2 linked regions of the Homo sapiens genome follow. The main gene of each other region encodes a partner of the protein of the gene in region 2 in a complex. Links are inferred from orthologs where the notes say so. Each region holds a gene or a part of one and is shown on either strand. Other genes may lie near its edges.

Region 1 (9,106 bases), on a different chromosome or scaffold from region 2:
AACAGTGATAAGATATAGTAGTTTTAAAAATGACCTTTTCATAAACATAAAATATTTCTAAGATCTATCTTTAGAAATTTGTAATTAGTTCTCTGGAATTTTAAAATGGAAAATCTGACATAGATTTAGGTTATTCTAAATTTATTTGAATATATATTAAATATGTCTATTTTATAATAACAGTTACTGTTATTACTACAGCACTATGTTGAGTACTTTTGTTATGTATCAGAGCCAGGTGCTGGGTCAGGTGCTTTATAAATCATGTCTGTAATTATCACAGCACATTTTAGGTAAGTGTCATTATGCCCACACCAACTGAGAGTTTAGCGTAAGATCATATAACTAATAAGTCACTGTGCCGAGATTCAAATCATGGCCTGATCCCAAAGCACATGCTGTATTGCTTCTGTGTGTCTGTTTAAATCTCTGCTGTGTCTCTGGATTCCATTTGTAGGGACAAGTTCTACTTTAAAGATGCCTTTAGGTGCTGTGTTTTGTTGTAGCTTCGCAGAAATATTTCAATCTTTCTGTTGGAACTATCTTGCTTCATTATTTTATAAATCATCTTATAAATCACATTATATTTTCAATATCTTCTTAATCATCTTTATACAAAACATAAGTGAAGAGTAAGACTTTTCTGAGTTTCTTACATAAATATGAATAGAATCTTTACTGTGGAGAAGAAATGTATTACAGTCCGGTTTTCTCACTATTGTAGGATTCTTTGGCCTCGTCATAATTCCTGTCTTCTTCCCAGGGAAGAAATTAAAGTTTGTTGGGCCTCTCTTATGTGCAAAGCAATGTCGTTGGTGTTGTGAGATGACAAGAAAATGCTTCCTATTCAGTAGTTGTTTCTGGAGTTTTTGTAGTATTTTTCTTTTCTCCCCATTCCTGCCTTATATGTTGCTGCTGGTTTATCTTCCTAGCAGAGATCCAACTTGGCTATTCCTTTGTGGGGAAAAAATACCAGCAAGGTTCCCCATTGTGTAAATAAAAGGCTGAGGCCGGGTACGGTGGCTCACGCCTGTAATCCCAGCACTTTGGGAGGCCGAGGTGGGCGGATCACGAGGTCAGGAGTTCAACACCAGCCTGACCAACGTGGTGAAACCCCGTCTGTACTAAAAATACAATAGTTAGCCCAGTGTGGTGGCACACGCCTGTAATCCAAGCTACTCAGGAGGCTGAGGCAGGGAGGCGGAGGTTGCAGTGAGCCGAGATCGCGCCACTGCACTCCAGCCCGGGTGACAGATCAAGACTCCATCTCAAAAAAAAAGGGGGGGCTGAATATGAATATATGCTTCTGCCACATGTTCAGAGTCCCTCACAGTTTGTTACTGTTCTACCTTCTCAGCCTTCTCTTTCACTACTCTGAATACTGTGTGCTTATCCTGGAACACATTCTGTGCATTTCTACCCTCCCTTTTTCTTGAGCCATTCTTTTCCCTTGACTGGAATGCCTTTCCTTCATTTGGCTAATAAGATCTACCCATCCTTCAAGGTGCTGTACAAAATTCCTTGCTTCCAAAAAGTTTTCCCTGGTCCTTTTCAGTTAGAATTATTATTCCCATATTATCACAAAACATTATTGAATAGAAACATTTATTTTCCCACAGAATGGTGATAACTTTTGGGAAGAGAAGACAAAATCATGTTTAATATATTTTCCTATGGAGAATTCTAAACTCAAACTCTCTAGGGACCCTTTCTAAGCATTTATAATATTTCTGCATTTGGGATTTATTTCTGCTTTAAAATGTGTTTGGGTCAGGTGCAGTGGCTCACACCTGTAATCCCAGCACTTTGAGGGGCCCAGGTGGGCGGATCACTTGAGACCAGGAGTCGAGACCAGCCTGCCCAACATGGCGAAACCCTGTCTCTGATAAAAATACAAAAATTAGCCAGGCGTGGTGCTGGGCACCTGTGGGAGGCTGAGAGAGGAGAATCACTTGAACCCAGGACGTGGAGGTTACAGTGAGCCAAGATGGCGCCACTGCACTCCAGCCTGGGCGACAGAGTGAGACTCCGTCTCAAAAAAAAAAAAAACAATGCTTAGTGGAAAGGACCATTTCTTTTCTATTTCACTATTGAGCTTTAAAATTATGTATATGTATTAATTGATTGAAGCTGATGACTGGACCATCGTTGGTAATAATAAATGGCTATGCTTACCAAAAAGGTTTATATATAGTTCAGATGATCTAACCTGGTGGCAAGAAAAGTAAATTATATTTATTGTCTGATGAATGTTACCAGTTTGTGTAGATCCATGGATGGAAGAAACAGACCAAAAACAAACAAAGAAACAGACCAAAAGTTATTGGCATTTAAGTGGCAGTCAGGATCAGATAGTTTAGATAAATTCGAAGAAGCACAAAATGTAACCTGGTTTGCAAACTTTTTACTGCCAGTGGAGTAAAGCAGGGCTAGGATTTCTTTGATAAAGAGCTAGCCTTTCTTGTCTGCTCTGATTGCATACCTTGGACAGTGCCTGGAAGTCCACCTAGCTGTCTAAAGGGAGTCTGTCTATTTTGACTTCCTAATCAGATAATTAAATGTGAGGCAGTTAGAGTTATGTACTAGTTGATCTTTCTATATGTCTCTGTCAATTCCCGGGATATGGAAAAAATGATTGCCTTTTCTTTATGGTTAGATGCCGTGATCTAGCAATTTTGTTAATTTTGAGGTTTTTGGAGCATTGCTTGGAAGATGCTATTAAGAGACAGATTTGTTCCTTGCAGATTGTTAGTTGTAAATAGTAGTGGAGGTTGGAGGTTGAACTTGATGACTTCTCAATATCCTTTCAAACCTACAAATTATTTTCCAGTTCTTCGTCCTGTGATTAAATTTTCTTATCCTAATGATCAAATTTGTAATTTAATATTTGTTGCAAATTTTACTAGTCTTACACTATATACACACACATTGTATCTAGGAAGTAGGTTTGTTAACTCCATGTAATGAGGAACATGAGTGAACACATTATTGCTAAATTGGCTAGAGAGTTCTTAAAACATGAATCATGAATCAAGAATTGCTTGTTTGTTCAGTGAATATTTTTTTGTGTGAAGTGCTACCTAATTGTTATGGAGATTGTAATGTAAGAGGCACTTTTAAAGATATTCTTCCCTTGAGAATAGTAAGACTATATTATAAATTGCTCTTATTGAAATAGTGAATAGCATTCTGTCTTCTTGCTTATTTTAATGGTCTTAGAAATGGTTCTTTCTACATGCAGTTTTCATCAAGTAAAATATTTTGCAACTTTATTTATATTCATTTACTTATTCGTTAATTTGTGAAACATGTAAATGCTACATGTTTACATCTTAAGGAGTATGAAATTAACATTTTATAATTGCAAAATTTAGAATTTCATTAAGAACTCATGGATGAGAACAATATTTTGTTTTATTTTTTTAGAGACAGGGTCTCACTCTGTGGCCCAGACTGGAGTGCAGTGGTGCAATCATCGATTACTATAACCTCCAACTCCTGGGCTCAAGCAATCCTCCTGCCTCATCCTCCCAAGTAGCTGGGGCTATAGTCACAGGCCACCACACCTGGCTGATTTTTCAATTTTTTGTAGAAACGGGGTCTTGTACGTTGCCTGGGCTGGTCTTGAACTGTTGGTCTCAAGTGATCCTTCCACCTTGGTCTCCCAAAGCACTGGGATTACAGATGTCAGCCACCGGGCCTACCTAAGAAAAATATTTAAATTTAATATCAGTATCTGTGGGGAATTGGTTCCAGGACCCCCTGAGGATACCAAAATCCATGGATGCTCAAGTTCCTTATATAACATGGTATAGTATTTGCATATAACCTATACGCATCTTCCCACAAACTTTTAATCCTCTCTAGATTATTTATGATACCTAATACGATGTAAATGCTATGTAAATAGTTGTTATATGGTATTGTTTAGGGAACAATGCCAAGGAAAAAAGTCTACATGTTCAGTAGAGACACAACTTTTCATTTTCTTTCCTGAATATTTTTGATACGCGGTTGGTTGAATCCACTATGCAGAACCCACAGATCTGGAGGACCTACTATAATTTAATTTAATTCTAAGGTAAGTTAATTCTAATACCTCTCTTTCTGCTCCATTTTATAAATAACAGCCCAAACCTCATAGTGGATAACGGGAGATAATATCATTGCCAGTTTAGCTGTTTGTGTAATCTAGACGCCTTTGGAGCTATTGCAATGAGTATCCACACTAATTCCCTTTATTAATTTTTTTATTAAGGAAAAAAGAGGCACAGTGGAATTCTGAACAAAAGGAAAAGAGATTTGATGTGTTGATAGCTGCTATTTGATGTGTTGATAGCTGCTACCTTTTTGTTCTTTCTTAAAATACTGCTCCCTAGCCCGTGCTGTGGCATGCACCTGTAGTCCCAGCTACTTGGGAGGTTGAAGCGAGAGGATCACCAAGAGTTCCAGGCTGCAGTGTGCTATGATTGTGATGTGAATAGCCACTGTACTCCAACCTGGGCAACATAGCAAGATCCCATCTCTAAAAAAACAAAACAACAACAAAAGATAGTGCTTCCTTTGTTGGCCAAGGGAAGAGATAAGAGGAGTACTATTTTGTGTTTCTTGCAGGCTAAACTTGTTATTAATGTGAAAACCTCATTTCCTCTTGGAAACTTCATCAGTATTCCCAAGGCTGTTTCTTTCTACCTTCCCTCCTTTCACCTTCTGCTCTGTTCCCTATTAACTTCTAGCTGTACTTAATTAACAGAGCAGTGAGTATTCATTAGTCTGGTTTATGATATAGCTGAAATACTTAAAAGGATGTTATATAGAAGAGGAATTAGGCTTTATTGTATATGGCAGCAGAAGGAAGAAGTAGAACAAATGGGTAGAAATGGAAGAATTGCTCAAAGTATGGAACGATTTTCTTACAGGAATATTCAAAATTAAGATTAGCTGCTTTATGACCTATGTAGGAATGCTATAGTAAGATAGTGGACTAACTGACCTCTAGGATTGTTTATAACACTGAGATTCCAGGACTTTATGATTGTATATCTACCAATTTATCTCATATATGTATATGTATATCCTTCTTTGTCTTTCTCAACTGTTATCTCAGAGGTTATAGTTTATGTCTGATATGCTGTAGCTCTCTCTAATGTATCGGTATGGATTCATTTTTATTTAAATATTCTCAGTCTTTATCACTGAAGATTTTACCTTTATTCCTCTCTTTTTCTTTCTCACCCTCCTATTAGATATATTATAGAGCTGCTCATTTTGTCCTCCTTTTCTCTGAACTTCTCTTTATTATTTTTCATCTGCTTATTCTTTCTTTAGCTGCTTAACTAGTACATTGAGGGTTTGTTGTTGTTGTTGTTGTTGTTTTGGTGGGGGCAGACAGAGTTGCACTGTGTCGCCTGGGCTGGAGCGCAGTGGCATAATCTTGGCTCACTGCAACCTCCGCCTCCCGGGTTCAGGCTCACTGCAACCTCCACCTCCCGGGTTCAAGTGATTCTCATGCCTCAGCCTCCTGAGTAGCTGGGATTACAGGCTTGCATCACCACACCTGGCTAACTTTTGTATTTTTAGTAGAGACAGGGTTTCACCGTGTTGGCTAGGCTGGTCTTGAACTCCTGGCCTCAAGTGATCACCTGTGTCTGCCTCCCAAAGTGCTGGGATTACAGGCATGAGCCATTGCACCTGGCCCTAACTAGTACATTGAGTTATTAATATCAGTGTTCATGGTAGTTTTTTGTTTCATTTTGTTTTGGGGCAGGGTCTTGCTCTGTCAACCAGGCTGGAGTGCAGTGGCATGAATATTAATACTGTTAGTAACAGCAATCCAAAAAACTATAATCCAAATGTCCATCAACAGCAGAATGAAAAATACATTTGGTATACAATGGAATATACATGCAAGTTGTAGCTATGCACAACAATTGAGAAAAATCTCAGAAACAACGTTCAGCAAAATCATATAAAACTAAATGGTATCTTATTTAGGACTATACTGACATTCGTGTTAAAGTTGTAAAGACAAGCAAAGGAATAAGGAACAAAATACAGTTTAGAAATCACCTTAGAGGGAAAAGGAAGGAGATGGGTTAGGTTGGACTACCCAGGAGACTTTAAAGGCAGGTAATGTTCTTATTTTAGACTGAATGGTGTTATATAAATGTTTGTTGTGTCATTCTTTTTACCATATACATATTTCCCAAATGTCTTTTGTACCTACCCAATATTAATAAAAAACATTTTAAAGACCTTAAAGAGTTTAAGTAGAATATATTTTGAAAGCAAATGAATCCAACTATAACCGAAGTATCAGTGTGATATCTTCTTTGAAGAAATAAATTTACTGAGTTTGGAGTTGACTATTTCAAATAATTATTGAATTTTCATTTGATTTGTTAATAGTAGTTTTTAAAAGTTTGAAGCAGCAATTTTGTTTTTAGATGCTAATATGATACATACTGTTCTTTTTTGTTTATAGCAGAAAATATTACATAAAAGTATTAAATTTCAAACATATTTTAAAAATTACAGTTCTCAAATCTCATCTATTCCCACCCCTATTTAGAAGCTCCATGATGACAGTTAAGCCCTGTGCTATCTTCTGTATTGATTGACATGACAGCAGTCTGCAGAGTTAGCTTGTGATTATGTACAGCTCAGGGTTACTGTAGGTTGTTCTTTGAAAATAGGACTTCAAGCAAAGCATCTTGTATTCCTTTTGCAGAAATGTTGCTGAAGTGCTGCTGAAAGGGCCAGAGATGCAAGGATTTGGGATACATTTTGAACCTTTAAGCTGTCTGACATTGACCTCCTTTCATTATTAATAAAGAAGAATCAGGAGCTTAGGATGTATTAACACCAACTCATTAATATACTAACCGGACAATGTTCTACAAACAATTCTACATTGTAAAGGACTGGATTGGCACAAAATAAAATAATTTTATTTTATTCAGCTTATAATATGACTCGATGGAGGAAAATTTGATAAGCATGAGAGAAGACCATTCTTTTCATGTTCGTTACAGGTAAGACTATTGCTGTCTTAATGGATGACTTTTAATCCTTATTTTAAAGTGTTTTTAACTCTGATGACCATTTCAAGTTTCAGTTGAAAATACTCAAATATACCAGCCATAGTATTGTCTGTAGACAATATTTTCTTTTTGTTGTAAGTTTTCCTTTCTGTAAGAAAATGATAGTAGAGACCAATTATGTACTATGGTTTGTTTAATGTTCTCTGGAAGAGTTTATGAATAATTTCTTTATAATTTGTAACTTTTTATGTAATGCAAATATGTAAATGAAATATGTTTGAAAATCTTTGGGGCTAAAAGGTGGATTTTTTAAAAATGTGGTCAGCTGAAGGACCAAACCTTTGCATTGTAATTTAATGTGATCTTTTAGACATGAACTTTTTATTTTTGATTTATTTTTATTTTTTGTAGTGTATTGTTTTGATTCCCTTCTCATTTCCTTTTTTTGTATATTTTTTATTTTATTAATTTTACTTTTTCTATATTATCAGAGATGGGAGTCTCACTATATTGCCCAGGCAAGTCTCAAACTCCTGGGCTCAAGCAATCCTCCTGCCTCAGCCTCCAGAGTAGCAGGAACTACAGGTGTGTGCCACTGCACCTGGCTTTTTATTTTATCTTTAAAGGAAATTTTATTTCACAACCATTATTACTGTTTTAAATATGTACCTAATCCACATTAATATAAATACATTATTATTAAAATACAAACAAGCGCTGTTCAAAAGAAATGTCATTTTTAAGCTTAATGTCTAGTGACATTTTGTGTTGTTTTGCTGATTTAATACTTAAGACCACATTTTTACATGAAGTAGTGGTTTGGTAATCCCTAATTTACTCCAGAAAGCAAGTCAGGCTGAGGAAAGGCACCCACATGCATTCTCTCACAAGCTTCACGGTCCCTAGGGAAATGGCCTGGCTCCTCTAGGACTTACAGTGTTCCCTTGGATGCCCAAATGGATTGTCTACATTCCTGGTAGAAGGTTGCAGATTGTAAGGACCAGTGTTCCCACCTTTGTTCTGCATCCACAAGTGTCTTTCACAAATACAACACACTCCCTTTGGCTACACCTTATATATAATAGGTTATGCACATGTATGTGTGTTGGTGGGGGTGGATGCTTCCCACTGATCTAGATCAGGATCCAAATCAGACATACACATCAGGAAAGGAGGGAAGATAGCCAGGAAGTGATAGCTGGGCAGAATGAAGGTACAGAATGGGCAGGTCTTCCTGATTTTTCAGAAGAGCCCAGGAAATCTGAAAATCTGAAGAGTGTGTGTGTGTGTGTTTTTGTGTTTTTGTTTTTTTTTTTTTGGAGACAGTCTCACTCTGACGCCCAGGCTGGAGTGCAGTGGCACGAGTTTGGCTCACTGTAACCTCCGCCTCCCATGTTAAAGCGATTCTCTTGTCTCAGCTTCCCGAGTAGCTGGGATTATAGGCGTGTGTCACCACGCCCAGCTAATTTTTTGTATTTTTAGTAGATACAGGGTTTTGCCATATTGACCAGGCTGGTCTTGAGCTCCTGGCCTCAAGTGATATGCCCGCCTTGGCCTCCCAAAGTGCTGGGATTATAGGCATGAGCCACCAAGCCCGGCCGGAAATCTAAATCTTTATTGTGCTGTCTCCAAATTCTGAAATGTTGGCAGCTAATGCAAATTTTTTTTTAAAAATGTGGGTTGAACATTTTAAGGAGGAGAAAGAGGCCTGTAACAGACACAACTCTCTAAAAAACCACACAGGCAGGTGGGGGAGGTAGAGCTCAAGGTTTTGAGAAAGCTGCTCTCCAGGACGTAACATACACTTACCCTGGGACTCCGAGGCGCTAACCCTCCTGCACCTCGAGGCCCAGAGCACCAAGTGCGATGTCCCCATCTCCTGGCCTTGCCCACCTCATTGCCCTCCATATCTCCTCATCACACCTTCGATTCCCCAAACCCCATAGGTTTCTCTGCCTCCCAGACTTTGCCCCTTATTCCTTGGATGGCCTAGAATGCCATTACCTGCCATCCTCCCAGGCACTGCCTGTTGCAAGCCAGGCTCCCATTCTCATTCCTCACTC
Region 2 (9,106 bases):
AGACTATAGACAACTGAAATAAACTGACTGACATCCTACCAAGGCTGCAACCAAGACAGTCTCAGTCACATCCTTTTTTTTTTATTGGCTACAGATGAGCATGTATCTGTTAAGGCCTTTGGCAACCCTAAGGATGACATCCTGGGACAACAGGTTGCCTGAAGTTCCTGGAGTTCTGTAGGCATTGAGGATCAGCTTATTGTAACTTTCTCAGAATATATGTGTAGTGCTGTGATAGTATTATGTATCCAGAATTAAGGGCTTTTTGAACCCTTTTAATTATGGCTGGGAAAGACTAGTACAAATTGAGAAGTCCTGAAGGAACCCCTCCCATTATTGAAGAGACAGCCTGGACTACAGCTGCTGAAGGAAACCCAACTCCCCACACACTGGAATGAGGCCCTCCTGGCTGAGATGAACAGAGTATGAAAATTGAAGAGATTGTACTAACCTGAGAATTTGGGACTTTGGATTATTCCTAAAAGTAAAAAGATTGAAATTTGCTTCCTATTATATTTCCCACTCTCCCACTGAGCAGATTTTGCTCAGCCATGTTGCCCAATATAGGTAAGTAGAAGCTGCAACGAGAGTAAATGGCAATACAAAGATAATCCAAACATACTTGCATGATGACAAACATAAAGATTTCCAAAATTTTGATATGCTCCTATCCCATTTTAAAGTTACCTGGGAAAAAATAAAGGAAAAGAAAAAACTTAAATCCTTTTACTCTAGGAATAATCCAAAGTCCCAGATTCTTGGGTTAATACAATCACTTCAATTTTTATACTTTGTTCATCTCAGCCAGGAAGGCCTCATTCCAGTGTGTGGGGAGCTGGGTTTCTTTCAGCAGCTTTAGTCCAGGCTGTCTGTACAACAATGGGAGGTTCCTTCAGGACTTCTCAGTTTGTACCATTCTTTCCAACCATAATTGAAGGAGTCCAAAAAGCCCTTAATACTGGGGTGAAGGGGGTGGGGAGATTTGTTCCTCTGCTCAAGAGCCCACACGACTTCTTAGTGCTAAAAGAATGTTTCTCGAATTGCATTTCCTAAAACACCAGCATCTCAGAAGAAGTAAATAGGTGCTTTAATAATATTTTTAAATCTGTGACCCTGAAAGTTTGGAATATGTTGCTTAACATTCTATGCCAGATACTGTTCTAGTCACTAGAGATATATGCACGAGCAAAACAAACCAAAACCCCTGCCTATGGAAGCTGCAGGTCAGACAAGAAATACTATAAGTGCTTGAGGACCTTTTGGAAGATTTGCAAAGCAGACCGGCACATCATAAGACAAATTTTGATGTAAAGAAATAGATTTGATTTCATTTACATCAAGACGGCACAAATGTAAGATCCTGGTATAATTACTAACATCCTAAGGAACAATATTTGAGTCACTAGTTTAAGAAACACATGCTTACAACACTGAACACAAGTTACCCTGTCTTCAGTCAATATATCTCCTGATGTCACTGCTGCCCTGTATGGAAACTTTCTAATATAAAAAGAAGCCAAAGATCAGCCAAAAATATATTATGAGCATGGTAAGCTCAGCCCTTAAAAGGGCATGGAGGAAATCATGGGACTTGCTGGCAGGGAAGGGGGAAAGCACCAGGAATGGGGGTTATCAGGAAGAAAACTAATATGCAGATGAATGGAGGACAACACTCTGTGGCCACCACCCCCCCCCGCCCCCCCCCTCACTCCTACCATGAGAGGGAGGCCAATAAGGAACCCACTCTAACAGGGCAGGAGCTGGTCTACTCAGCTTCCAGGCCAGGCATCAATGAACCAGGTGGTCAGACCTGGCAATAGAGCAGGGAACAGCTGGGGAAGTAGGAGCACCAGATCAGGAATTTCACCCTGAATATGATCAGAATGAAGAAATAGCAGAATGGATTCAACTATACAGCCCAAAGGCCAGGGAAGTAGGCTCCAAGCAAGCCCAGGGAGATTTTCCCAGGCTCTTCTGACCTAAAGCATCAAAGATACCCTGCCTCTTTGCTGCCTCATAGAAAGCACTGATGACTAATTCCAAACCCAGCTGGCTTTCACTCACAGTTTAACACCTCTTTTTCAGCCCTTTTTGTTTGTTTGTTTGTTTGTTTTGTTTTGTTTGTTTTTTTTGAGACGGAGTCTCACTCTGTTGCCCAGGCTGGAGTGCAGTGGCGCGATCTCCCCTCACTGCAAGCTCCGCCTCCCAGGTTCACACCATTCTCCTGCCTCAGCCTCCTGAGTAGCTGGGACTACAGGTGCTCGCCACCATGCCCGGCTTATTTTTTTTGCATTTTCAGTACAGATGGGGTTTCACCACGTTAGCCAGGATGGTTTCGATCTCCTGACCTCGTGATCTGCCCGCCTTGGCCTCCCAAAGTGCTGGAATTACAGGCGTGAGCCACTGCGTCCAGCCATTTTCAGCCCTTTTAATTGAACCTGGCACTTTCAGGAAAGTGGTCACAAAAATGGCATAAAAAGCAACAGCCAGCACCTGTACCCCTGCTCAGAAGTTGCTCCAGGTCTCCCTCTCCACCACTAACTCCAATATTTCTTGCTCATCAGTCCCTCGACTTTTTTGTCCATTTTGGTCCTTGTGTCCCTTGGGTCCCTCTGGACTTGATGGTTGATCACCACCTGCCCCTGCATGTGATTGTCAGCACTGGCTCATCAGCTCCAAGTGCTGCCCCAGCACCCCAGCCTGTGGCCCTTCCTTCCCTTTGTCCCTGTCAAGACATGGAGAGTGGCCCTTGAGGACCTTCCTGTTGTTGGGGTCGGGGGTGATAATACCCAGGACCTGCTGCACTGACATGGGGGCCTGTGGGAGGAGTGGGGGTGAGGCAGGACCAGCATGTCAGTCAAGCCAGAAGGGCCTGCACCAAACCAACCAAACACTCAGGAAGGAGAGAAAGCAAACCCTGGGCTCGGCAGAGAGGCTGAATTTGGAGAGGAGCCGACATGGAAAGAGATTTGTTATTTGTGGTAGGCTTTTATTTGGTGGTGGGAAAAGAATGGCAAATATGTAACACAATATTTCTGTAACTATAAATAACCATAAATACCTTTCATAATGAAAACCTTATGGAATCTGCTTTACTGGGAGGTTTTTAAAATAGCAAAGGGTAAGGGAGGGAAATAACATGTATTTAACCCACACTATGTGCTAAACACCTTCCATATGCCTTTGCTTAGTCCTCTCACTTTTCTTCTGGAGAAGGTTTACCAATTTATAGAGGAGGAAAACGAGGCTGAGAGAGGTTCAGGAACTTAACTGAGGCTCCATGGTGAACCACAGATAGAAAGTAGATAGGCCAGGCTCCAAATCCCTCCCTCTTTCTGGAATCAAGCACAAGCCTGCCTAGAGGCAGGGGCTAGACTATATGATCTTTCTAGATTCTTCTCTGTTGTCAGGATTTCTAGAATTAGCTTATTCCCTGCAGGTGCCTCAATTCTTTCAGGATAGTAAGGACCCATCGGGTAAACTGTGAACATTAACTCAACAGAGAAGAGGGGGATCAGGTTCCAATTTACTCCTGTGGCCTGACAGTGTTCTACCCAGGAAAGCAAAAGACCTCAGGGAGCTCAGGTTTTATCTTCAGGACACAGGCTCTGGGAAGGGTGGGAGTAATAATGAAAGTAGAATTGGGAGATGCTGGGCTCTGCCACCATCTTGCTGTGTGACCTTGGATAAGTTTCTCCCCACTCTGGGCTCCAGTTTTCACATCTGGAAAATGCAGAGTTGGGTTAGGTGCTCAGGAAGCCTCAGCCCAGCTCTGACAGTTTTGTTTCACAAATGCTGGAGTTGACTTTGGTGGTTTGAGTAAGATGTTTCCCAATAAAGTCCACATCAGTAGCTTCCCCAAGCCTGGCTCAGCCCCTCTTTCTCTCCTTTCCTCCAAGGGTCCACACAAGCACCCCTCCCTGCAGCCCAGCCTGCACTGACCTGAACCTCCCGTGTCAGGGCCAGCTCCAGCAGCTGACCAAAGTGCTGGCCCAGCATGCTCAGGGTCTCACTCACGCAGGCCTTCATTGACTTCAGGACATGCTCATTCTCAACCTGAAGGCACCTGAAGAGAAGAAACCATGGGGTGGGCCACTGGAAAGGGCATGTGGTCAGCCCAGAAATGTTGCACGGGCCAGAACTGGACCTGCTACAAGCCTGGTGTGTGCTGAAGACATTGGCAACTGGGAGTCAGAGATGGAATATTCCACAGCTGGCTTGCCCACTGGTCTCTTAGTGTGCAGAGATGTGCTGGCCTGAGATGAGGACTACCAGTCCACATCAACAGGAAGAAAGGCCATCAGAATGTGGAAAATCTATACCTCTGGGCTTCTCCCTGCAGAATCTGCCATCATTGCAGCCAGGGTCTATCTTCTCTGTGATGTTGGGGTGGGAGATGAAGGGGCAAGAAGCTTCAAAGAGAGGTGCCAAGTGCCAGGTATTGCTAGTGAGCTCTGAAAAGGTGGATAGCAATGCCTGTGGCCCTTTAAGAAATGGCTGCCTAGAGTGTGCAGAGAGCCTTGAGAATTTTCTTCCCAGACAAGAAAAACAGAGGGGGATCAGGTTCCAATTTACTCCTGTGGCCTGACAGTGTTCTACCCAGGAAAGCAAAAGACCTCAGGGAGCTCAGGTTTTATCTTCAGGACACAGGCTCTGGGAAGGGTGAAGGAAAAAGTCAACACACACCTGGGTGTGTATACATGTGAGGCTGAGTGTGTGTACATATCTGAGTATAAACATATGTAGGTTTATGTGTGTGAAATATGGAGGAAAGGGTGTGAATGTATTTCTGTGCTGGTCCAAGCATGTGTTTATATATCTGTATATGAGAAAGTGAGTGTGGGCATTGAAGTCTATGTGTATGTGCGTGTGTAAGGGTGTGAGTGTCGGCTTTCACCTTGCCTTGACTCTTGCCTTGACTTTGGGGATCTGTGGGTCTTCCCAAAGCTGTGGGAAACCTTTTCCTTGTTACCAACTCCTAGAAAATCCTCTTTCTTCCTATGCCCAGGCCTCTCCTCTGCCTTTTACCCTATCCCTAGGGCCTGAACATGGGGCAGAAAATTTCAAGAGAATATTTTAAGATTTCTGATAAAAGTCAGAAAAAGGAAACTCTGAAACCACCACCACGCCTCCCATTCCCATTCTCCCTCTGGGAGAAGATACCAGCCCCTTCTCCTGCCAGAGGTCGGGTGGGCAGACCCTGGGAGATCTATGGTCCAAATTTACCTCTCTGTGACTGCCGAGAGCTCCGAGCATTTCTCCATTAGCAGCTTCTCAATCTGTAGAAAAATAAGTCCATTTTATTCAACTCAGTAAGCATTAACTGAGGACCAACTGCTGTGCTGAGCACACGGGGACATTAAACATGAAGAATCAATTAATGTGACTTGGGGAACAGGCAGTTAAAATATAACACAGTGTGATACAGGTGGTGAAAGAGCTCACGGTAGGCTGCTTTGGGAGTATAAGAAAATGAAACTGAGCAGTTATTTATGCTGAGGAAGCTGGGAAGCTTCAGGAAAGAAGGGGCATTTGAGCTGGGTTTTGAAGAATGAAGAGAAGTTTTAATGTCTGCAAAGCTAAGGAAGGAAAAGTTCGAGGCAAAGGGCAAAGCACTAATGTGAAATGAGAATGATGAAAGAGAATTAATAACAAGGGAGATTTTTAATGGTTCACCTTGGGCTTTGAGAAGAAGATTCAAAGTCATGGGCTGTGGACTCAGAAAAGCTTAGATTGGACCCTACTTATTACACCATTCACTGCGTAACTTTAAATAAATTATTTGGCCTCTTAGAACTTTTGTTTCCTCATCTATAAAATAAAGGTAATCCTAACATTTTTAATCAATTGCTTTAAGTGTTTTGCATATAACAATTCATCTAGTCCTCACAACAAATTTATAAAATAAATTATATTATTATACCTTTTAGGATGAAGGAACTGGGACACAGAGAAGTTAAGTAACTTGCTGAGGTCCACATAGCAGAGCTAACATTTCAACCCAAGCAGTCTGGCATTAAAGTCAATATATTCAACCACTGCACAGCTTCTCAAAGTAGTGGCACCTACCTCACAGGTTGTGCAGGTTAAATGAGATACATGTAAAAAAAAAACACCTAGCACAATGTCCACCACATAGTAGGCACTCAGTAAAGATTCCACTCTCTTTCTTTCCTCCTTTACTGGAAGGGGAGAAAGGCTTCTGGAGCAAAAAAGATTCAGACACCACATGATTCAAACCCACTCTTCTCTAAAGCACCCTGACTTCCAGTTCCCGCCCACTCCTATCCCAGGGCAGCTGACCTCGCCCATTTCCTTCAAGGAGTTCCTGCTGACAGCACTGTACTCGCTGACCATGGAGCGGGCATGGCAGGTCAGACGCACGCTCATGCTGTGCACCCGTGCCCAGCGGTCCTGGGCCAGCTTCTGCCCGATCCTGCGCAGCTCTGTGCTAATGACCCAACCCCGTTTGAGCAGCAGCTGCAGGGGGTCTCCAGGGCCAGGGCCACCTGCCAGGATGAGGTCACCCTGTGCATCCTCTTCCAGGCTGATGGGCTTGGCCTGCAGGACACACATGCACTCGCACTCGGTCATGAGCTTCAGATCTTCCATCCAGCGCTGGACTGAGTCCACCTGCATCAGGTGTAGCCTGCAACCAGGAAACAGCACCACGATAATTATCAACACCCCATGATTTCCAAAGGTCTCAATTCTAGGCCATCTGATATTTACTAAGCACCTATTATATGTTTAGCAGTGTTTCTCCCATTCATGCACCTTGATATTCTCAGTCATTTCTCATTCTCTTCATCTTATGGATAAGAAGTCTGAAGCATAAAGTTTTAAGGGCAGATGACCAGACTAACAAGCAACAGGTAATTATGTCTGACAGAGTAGCCAATGATCTTTACAATAAGGGGGAAATGGAAGGGTGAGGCAGGAATATTGCTTGAGGCCAGGAGTTCAAGACCAGCCTGGGCAACATAGCAAGATCCCATCTCTTTAAAAAAAGTTAATGGAAATAGCCTAAATATCAAATAATGGTTACACTAAGTGAGCTATGGTATAGCTATGATTATGTAGTACGCAATTATTTAAAATGATGCTTTCCAAAAGTTTATAGCTAAGAAAAATGTGTGTGCTAATATGCAAAAATGGAAATGTAAACACACAATTATTACAATAATGTTAGAAAGCTCCATCTAGGAAAAATATTTAAAGGAAACACATTACAATGCTAAAGGCTCTTAAGGAGTAATGTAACTAAAGTCTTTTTCATTTTTTTCAGCTTTTCTCTAGTTTCCAAATTTTCTATAGTGAGCATGTATATTACTTTTGTAATGGAACAAAATTAACTATATTTAGTACAACAGCATGAGAACATAGATTAGTTCCTAAGATCTTAATCAAATAAAATGCACTCTAAAATTCACTGAGTCAAGTAAAAGTCAGTAATATCAGATCATTGATAAAGCATTGTATATTTGTTGAGTCCCTTATATTTCATATAAGTGCCAGGCACTGTGGGAAAAGCAGATATGAAGATGTTAAGCCTCCACTCTCGAAAAGATTTTGATCTGCCTAAAGAATCAAGATAAACTAATGAGAAGTTAAAAGACAATTGTTATGTGTCAATTAAAAGTAAAGCTTGAAAACAAAACTAAACTAAAAAGACAATAACAAATTTCACTATCATTTCACAACAGAAGACATGCATAGCTAATGACTAAGGCTGAGTGCAAGTTCCTTTGTCTTTGGCTTGTAACAGTATTCTGATTAGTCTTTCTGCCGCTGATCTTACCTGCCTCAAACATTCTTCACCTGCCACCAGCTCATTCACTCATCTACAAATATCAGTACCTACAACATGTCAAGTATTGTTCTAAGACCTAGACTGTAGCAGCAAACAAATAATCACTTCTCTAGCCAATGTTACATTCAAGTGAGAGAACAGTCAATTTTCAAAATAAATGAGCAATGTATGTAATATGTTGCAAGTAGCAAATGCTAGGAAGGAAAAGAGAACAGAAAAAAAGACTAGAGAGTGCTAGGGGTGGGTGGGGGAGTAGACCTCACAATTTAAAATAAGAGGATCAGAGGAGACTCATTGAGAAAGAGACACTTGAGCAAAGACTTGAAGCACACGACGAAGGATGCCATGTGGCTATCTGAGGGCAAATTGCTCCAAGGAGAGAGATCAGCAAGTGCAAAGGCTCTGGGGGCAGAAGTGTCCTGAGATGTGCAAGGAATAGCAAGGAGGCCAGAGTAGCATGGGAATAGTCAGCCAAGGTGGAAGATGAGTTGAGAGCAATGAGGTGGGGGTGAGGGGAGTAGATCCTATGGGGCTGTGTTGGACAAGGTGGAGATTTGGCTTTTATTCTGAGTCAGTATAGCAAATAAAGGGCACCAATGAGGCCAGCCTGGTGAAGCAAAGGTACCAAGTAGGGTTGAAATTATAAGGCAGACTCCAGTTATCGAGGTTAAAAAATCATGTCTTCATGTTTACAGTTATTTAATGAGAAGGAGCAAGACTTTCTGAAATATGTAACCATTTGACTGTAGGCTTTTAAATGTAATTTTTAACCACACATCTTATGTTTAATTATGAAATTGAACATATGATTTCTTTTAGGAAATTGCTTTTTAAATTGTTTTTAAAAAATAACCAATGATTTCTCTGTCTCTGCCTCCCTTCATGGAAATAGCTATTACATTTTGTAAAGAATTTGAACATATACATATACATGCATATGTATGTGAACACATACATATATGTATATGTATACAGACACACAGAGAGAGAGAGAAACCCATTAAATCCAAAAATCACAGCACCCTACTGCCCATATATCCTTATGAAATCATATTTAATTTTATATTAAGTAGAATCACATCTCATGTACGGTTTGATTGCAGACAACTTCTAATCTTCTGCATCTTATTACCATTCCCTTATATTTGCCCACCCCTTCCAATCTCAGCCAACTAACTTTAACCTAGTAAGTATCATTTTATATTTTTCTCCATACTCATGCATTCTTACACAGACTTTTATCTAAGTATATATACATTTATAAGGTTTTCTGACCTATTGCTTTTTTTGTAA

The links.
Region 1: the proteins of INSC (region 2) and GPSM2 are in contact, whole or in part, in a crystal structure (PDB 3RO3), measured with the Mus musculus proteins. The link is inferred for Homo sapiens from one-to-one orthologs. Residues at the interface, in XP_006507722.1 of Mus musculus: Val72, Asp73, Ser74, Val75, Arg77, Trp78, Met79, Asp81, Leu82, Lys83, Leu84, Met85, Thr86, Glu87; in NP_083798.2 of Mus musculus: Asn210, Tyr213, Leu214, Phe218, Arg242, Ser246, Asn247, Asn250, Ile253, Phe254, Tyr265, Gln283, Tyr286, Ser287, Asn290, Thr291, Thr293, Leu294, Arg323, Trp326, Ser327, Asn330.

The regions. Positions count from the first base shown.
Region 1 is NC_000001.11:108,878,545-108,887,650, forward strand, and holds part of GPSM2 (G-protein-signaling modulator 2), read left to right. Parts: intron 1-3,931; exon of another isoform or gene 3,932-4,081; intron 4,082-6,730; 5' UTR 6,731-6,978; coding exon 6,979-7,034; intron 7,035-9,106. UniProt on the Homo sapiens protein: Plays an important role in mitotic spindle pole organization via its interaction with NUMA1. Required for cortical dynein-dynactin complex recruitment during metaphase. Plays a role in metaphase spindle orientation.
Region 2 is NC_000011.10:15,173,284-15,182,389, reverse strand, and holds part of INSC (protein inscuteable homolog), read right to left. Parts: intron 6,650-9,106; coding exon 6,304-6,649; intron 5,280-6,303; coding exon 5,227-5,279; intron 4,067-5,226; coding exon 3,943-4,066; intron 1-3,942. UniProt on the Homo sapiens protein: May function as an adapter linking the Par3 complex to the GPSM1/GPSM2 complex. Involved in spindle orientation during mitosis. May regulate cell proliferation and differentiation in the developing nervous system.